2 linked regions of the Homo sapiens genome follow. The protein of the gene in region 1 interacts with the protein of each later gene in a pairwise test. Each region holds a gene or a part of one and is shown in the gene's direction. Other genes may lie near its edges.

Evidence for each region.
Region 2: the proteins of NAA25 (region 1) and FTCD interact in a two-hybrid assay, tested with the Homo sapiens proteins (one large-scale study listed by BioGRID and IntAct).

Annotation. Positions count from the first base shown.
Region 1 is NC_000012.12:112,025,995-112,028,909, reverse strand, and holds the end of NAA25 (N-alpha-acetyltransferase 25, NatB auxiliary subunit), read left to right. Parts: 3' UTR 1-2,221; downstream 2,222-2,915. UniProt on the Homo sapiens protein: Non-catalytic subunit of the NatB complex which catalyzes acetylation of the N-terminal methionine residues of peptides beginning with Met-Asp, Met-Glu, Met-Asn and Met-Gln. May play a role in normal cell-cycle progression.
Region 2 is NC_000021.9:46,145,261-46,149,080, reverse strand, and holds part of FTCD (formimidoyltransferase-cyclodeaminase), read left to right. Parts: intron 1-2,753; coding exon 2,754-2,815; intron 2,816-3,133; coding exon 3,134-3,263; intron 3,264-3,502; coding exon 3,503-3,664; intron 3,665-3,820.

The DNA of each region.
Region 1 (2,915 bases):
TTGTCTGATAGTTAAGACATCCCCATCCTAGCTTCTGTGAGAGTTAAAAATCTCAGGTAAGAAGGCAAGGAAGGCTCTGTTAATTTATAGCTGTTTAGAGGGGAAAGCAGTGCAGACCACTTATTAAGCCCGCTGAGGACTAGCTTTCTGTCTTTCATACATTTGGGAAAGATAGGAATGACTGTTTCAAAGAAGAGAGGTGCACATAATTTATGCAGGCAAGTATGATACTTATTTCATTGGTTTTGTGAGTCATATATATACATATATATATATACACATATATATATGACTTGAAAATTAAGATTTAATACTTTAATGTTTTAAGTGTGGGGGGTTTGGGAAGGAAGGAATGTAATATTATGGATTTAGCCTTAGGCTTTAAGTTTTAGGCTGGCAAAAGAAATGTTATTCAGTGGGTTTGAGGTTTGGACTACTTTCTTCAAACTTAGAGAATTATAACAGGATGGTGTTTACTTTGTTCACCTGGATGTCCCCAAGACTCTAGCTTCTTCTATCAGTGGTTGGTCTGATAGAAGAGGTAAAAATTGCTCTTGAAAATGTCCTACAATTTATGCAGTTTCTTTGATAATATTTTTCTGTTTAAATCCCTGCTTCTGTTTTTGGTCTGTTACCTAAATATAGTTCAAGTTTAATTCTGTAAGAGCAAAGAAATGAATTTGATGAGGAAATTAAGCATCCAATGGAGGATTGGTCTTGAAGACCTTAAAGGTGCTTTCCAACCTGCACTGCTCCAGTGAAATGTGGTACTTTTTTCTTTTAAAAGCAACCAAGAGAGCTGGGAATATCTGTGTACGCAAAGTAATTGCATTTTGTCCCTTCATTTTGACTTTCTTAGATTCATAATTTGATACAGTGCTTAAACTTCCAAGGAAATTTTAAACAATTACTACATTACCTGTTCAAAATAAGGCTTGTTGGAAATCCTAGTCCATCAACTAATTTCAAAAATTTATTTTTGATATGAGTAGCAACAGCTGGTCATATACCCTATCCCAAAAGGAAGAACTGTCTTGAACAAGATGAATGGAAAATTGTGGTTAATTCTGAATTTCATGTAATGACAACATATTCTTTCATAAAACTATGGCCTGTTTAAGATGGAACTTTGTGTGTGTCTGCTGGGGAGGGTGGGGTACATGTGTATGGCGTGTGTTCTTGAAATGATGTCTCTCTGAATATCCAAAAAAGTACTGTACTGTAGAAATGCTCTTTGAAAAAGTCTATCGACTGACCATGATCAATCTAGCATATGTATGTTCAGTGGGCTAGCCTTGGTCCTCAGGGACAGTGTGTGACTCTAGTGGTCTTCCTAACCAGTCTCTTGCCTAAAGATATCTGGGACCTCTACTGGCTTTAATGACAAATAATGTTATGTTGAGGTTATGCTTCCTTTGTTATTTGCTGATTTTCCTACTAAATGTAGCATTTCAATTAGATCCAGCTTTCACATTTTGAGATAATTGTAAAAAGAATGAAATTATGCAGAAATGGCCAATATCTCTTATCAATCTGTTCTTTTGGAAACCCTCATGTACTATAAATTGTGTACAGTTAAAAAAATATATATATATATATATTCTTACATGAGTAAAAAGCACCCTCTCCCAGCAATCGTATGCCATTGGTATTTGAAGAGAATTCCCAAATAACCCATTGCTGCTGCTGCTGTTTTTGATTTGTATGGGTTTTTTTGTTTTGTTTGTTTTTGTGTGGTAAACTGATATTTAAAAAAGGAAAGGAGAAAAATCACGACTACTGTTTACAGACTGAAAAATTATTGCTTTTTATACTACTGAGATCCTAAGTTAAGACTCTCCAAAGCAAACATTTGGTTTAAATCATTTATCTGATGTAGATAAAAGGTAGAGAAACTTGTAGTGTTCTCCACATAATGGAAAATGTACAAATGCCTAGTTGTGTTGCCCATCAATTTTGTATATTTTCATAATTTTAATTGTTGAAAATTGCATTATATTTTGCAATCACTATGTTCAATCTGGATTTGTCTTTCATTTTAACTTTTAATATAAAAAGGGGTTTCAATGTATCTACAGGCTTGTTATTGAAACTTCCTACTTATTTGATGTGATTTATTAATATAGGAAGTATATATTCTTCCTTAAGTAAGTGAAGCATAGCAAATCTACTTTAAACTGGATGGGTTAATTTATATAAACATTTTCATTTTAAGTTGGCATTTCTGCCTGGTTCCTTTTTGTTCAGATTCTTAGAAGCCACAACCTTCTGAATGGTGTAATTCATCTCAGTTGTGAATTTAGGGCTATATCCCAACATATTTTTAATATTTGAGAATTTAGAATTTTTATTTGAAGTCAGCTAGTCCTTTTGACTCAAAAGTTAGTACCTTCTGTACTTGCAGTTATTAATTCAACATATATGTATTGAACACTTAAATTAGCATATAGCAGATTCCACTTTAGGCTCTGGTGAGACCCTGTGTCCTAGTTAGTAAGTGAGTAACATATATCCTAGTTAGTGGCTGTGAGGTGGGGAAGAGGCAATAAAAATATTAGTTTGTAATTACATCCTGCTTAATAATGTAAATCACAGTATGTGAATTGAGTGTGTCTAGAGGGTCACTTCAGAATGGGTCACAGGAGGACCTCCTAAGTGGTGACCTCTGATCTGAATGATGAACTGTCAGGAAAAAAGTAACACACATGCAAATGCCCCAAGGCAGGAAACTGCTGAGCCGGTTCCAGGAAGTGAAAAAATGTTCAAGTGGCTGGGACTTAATGAAAGGGGTAGGATTGAGATAGAAAGTTGAGTAGGGATGAGAGCCATCAGGACTTAGTAGTCCGGGGAAGGAATGAGATTTTATTCTAAATTTAGTGGGAAGTTACCAGAGGATTTCAGGCAGGCTGATGACA
Region 2 (3,820 bases), on another chromosome or scaffold:
TTTATTTGTGTATAATCATATTATATTTTTTTCCGGACTATTTAAAAGTTGGGTTGAAGACATTGTACTCTTTTACCCCTAATTTATTAAGGCTGTGTTTCTTAAGAACAGGGACATTCTCTTACATAACCACAGTGTAATTATCAAAATCAGGAAATTCAACACTGATACAATCCTAGTATCTAATAATCCTCAGGCCATAATCAAATTGCTTCAGTGTCCCAGTGATTCCCATCATAGCGATTTCTCCTCCAATCCGTGATCCAGTTCACGTAACACAGAGCACTGAGCCAACCTTTTCTCCTTTCTTCCAACTGTTCCTGTCTTCCTTGTCCTTCATTGACCTTGACATAGTTTCAAAGGACAGACTTTTAAAAGCGCCTCAGTGGGGACTAGTCTGATGTTGCTTGTGGCCAGATGTAGTTGTGCATTTTTATTTTAATTTAATTTGTTACTTCTTTTGAGACAGGGTCTTGCTCTGTCACCCAGGCTGGAGTGCAGTGGCACAATCACAGCTCACTGCAGCCCCAAACTCCAGGGCTCAGGTGATCTTCCCACCTCAGCCTCTCAAAGTGCTGGGATTACAGGCAAGGACCACTATGTAGTCCTGGCTAATTTTGTACAGATGGGGTTTTGCTCTATTGCCCAGGCTGGTCTCAAACTCCTGGACTCAAGCAATCCACTCACGTCAGCCTCCTAAAAGTGTTGGGACGACAGGTGTGCACCAACACGCCCAGCCAGTTACGCATTTTTGGCAGGAAAAGCATAGATGGTATTGTGTCCTCCTCAGAGACGCCGACTCCCCATGATGCTCATTTTCTCAGGGTGCCGACGTGGACCCGTCACTTGCCAAGGCGACCCCCTTCCTCCTGGACCCTTCACTGCAATGTTACTATTTTTCCTTTTGCAATTAATACGTTGTGGGGAGTACTTGAAGGTGTTTAAAGTATTGAGTAGGTAAATACCTGTTTATTACTGAAATTCCAGAGTTTTAGGAGCCAGTGACAGCATTCCAACGTCATCCTTTCTGTCTAAGCAGCAGCTGTCGCTTCTCCACATTTCCTTGTCTTCTTATGTGTGAGGCCCCGTCTGCTTTCCAGTGTGGCGTTTTGTCTTCTTCTTTTTTTTTTTTTTTTTTGAGATGGAGCCTCACTTTGTCACCCAGGCCGGAGTGCAGTGGTGTGATCTCGGCTCACTGCAACCTCCACCTCCCGGATTGAAGCAGTTCTCTGCCTCAGCCTCTCGAGTAGCTGGGATTACAGGCGTGTGCCACCGCACTTGGCTAATTTTTGTATTTTTTTTTTTTAGTAGAGACGGGGTTTCACCATCTTGGCCAGGCTGGTCTTGAACTCCTGACCTCGTGATCCGTCCGCCTCAGCCTCCCAAAGCACTGGGATTACAGGCGTGAGCCACCGTGACTGGCTGGGGTTTTGTCTTCTTTACCTGAAGGGCCCCATGCCTGCGGCCTGCACAGGTCTGGCTGTGCCCGTGGCTGCGTGCTGCCTCCTTGTGGTGAGGCTGCTTTGCTTTGTGTTGTGTGATTTTTGATTGCCAGTGCATGCTCTGTGGAATTTTATCTATGGTAATTCTTGGACACCTGGGTTCAAAGTTTTCTCCTCCAAGGAGGGTTTGTGCTGGCGCTTGTGGACACTGCCTCACAGGACCCCCTGAAGCTGAGTTTTTGGCTTGGAGTTCTGGAACCACACAAGAGTGAATTCGGTGTCGGGTGAGGCCTGCAGCCCTGTCAGGGTGGCTTGTGATTAGGAATTCCCAGGAGATTTTTTTTTTTTTCCTGCTTCACCCAAAGGGAAGGCAGGGACTGGGAAGTACCTCAACTGTTTCCTCTGGCGGGTGGCTGTTTCTAATTCATCCTTGGGGGTGTCACCTTCCAGGGGTCTCCAGTCGGACCCCACTCTGAAGGCCCCAGACCTCCCCCACTCATCAGGGGCTGCCAGAGAGGGGCAGTTGCCCCCAGGGCAGACCCAGCTCCAGGCTGGCAGGCCTTTCCGGACTCGTCTTTCTGGTCGTGTCTGGTTTCGAATGATGTCCTGTCTGCTAGCTTAGCCAGGCCTTTAAAATGCCCGGCATCTTCCTGGGGTTTTCTGCGGAAGGAGGCTTTGCCTTGTGGCTTGCTGGTTCTATGCCACGGGGAGGCACTCTCCACCCCGCCCGGCTGCTGTCCGTCTCTGTGGGGTGGGGTGGGGGTCGCATAGCCAACGTGTTCTGAATGGGTTTCCCAGAATGAATTCTAATCTTAAATGGGACTGTCACAACTTTATTTTGAATTTAGGTAAAACTCACTTTTGTGGCATACAAGTTTATGTGTGGGTGACTTGGGGCTGTTCCTCAGCTTTTGAGGACTTGTTAGATGTGAAGACTTGGTGAATTAAAATCTTTCCCGCCCGTCAGCGATGGGGCAGTGGTGCTGGGGGGCGGCGAAGCATGAGCAGCAGTTTGCTGAGGGGTCCCCAGGGGGCAACTCCTTTCTCTGGGCCTCAGGTTCCCCAAGGGCAACTCAGGGTGATGGCTGTTTCCAGAAGCCTGTACGGGGTGCCTGCTGGGGCGGGGCCCACAGGGCTCCTGGCGGGGCAGAGGTGGGGGGTGCCAGCCACGCCCCTGCCCTGCTCCCCGCAAAAGCACCTGTGTGCTCGGGGCAGGGGGCGGCTGCCGCAAGGGTGGGACCCGCGGGTTCCGAGGCTTTCCTGGTGGTGGAGACGCGCCGAGGCCGTTTCCACTCCAAGCCCCTTTTCCAGGTGGTGAGCCGGCTGGGCCTGGACTCCCTGTGCCCCTTCAGCCCTAAGGAGCGGATCATCGAGTGAGCCTCTGCCCTCCCGCCCTCTTCTCACCCCTCCCGGGCTCTGCCTCTCGGGCCTTGCGGGGCGCTGGGGTCCCTGCGTGGAGACCCGGCTGAGTCCTCCCAGCGCCTCCCTTTGGGCGCCTACTCGGCCTGCGCCAAGCCGGGGTCTGGGGGCTGAGGGGGGCACAGAGACCCCGGCCGGGTCCCCGCAGGTTCTCAGCCGAGTGGTCACCTCCCCGTGGGTGCAGACGGGCGTGGGGCCTGGGGCCGCCCCGGGAGGACTGCGCTCCCCCCACCAACCCCGGCCAGACCCGCTGAGCCGCGCCCACCCTGCAGGTACCTGGTCCCTGAGCGCGGGCCTGAGCGAGGCCTGGGCAGCAAGTCCCTGCGCGCCTTCGTGGGGGAGGTGGGTGCCCGCTCTGCGGCCCCCGGGGGCGGCTCGGTGGCGGCGGCCGCTGCGGCCATGGTGAGCGCGGGGGGAGGGGCAGGGGAGGCGCAGTTGTTGGGGGGAGGGCGGGGAGGGGGAAGGGCGCTGTTGGGGGGAGGGCACGGGGTGGGGAGGGCGCGGTGGGGCCGCCCTGGGTGGAGACGTGGGGGCCACACGGGTGGGACCCCCGCAGGGATCACCCGGGCCCCTGGCTCTTCCTGGGGTCGGTCCCGGGCCGTCTGGGGTCCCTGCGACCCCCACATCCACCCCTCTCGCAGGGTGCGGCGCTGGGCTCCATGGTGGGCCTCATGACCTACGGGCGGCGCCAATTCCAGTCCCTGGACACGACGATGCGGCGCCTGATCCCGCCCTTCCGCGAGGCTTCGGCCAAGCTAACCACGCTGGTGGATGCCGACGCCGAGGCCTTCACCGCCTACCTGGTGAGTGGCGGCCACAGCAGGGCTCCCCGGGCCCCACCAACAGCGAACCCCCAGCTGGGGCCCCAGTGAGAAGCGGGTCAGCCTCCGGCTGGGGAGGGGCTGGGGACCAGGAGGGGCCTGAGGGCGTCACCACTGGCCGCTGTCTGGACCTTGACC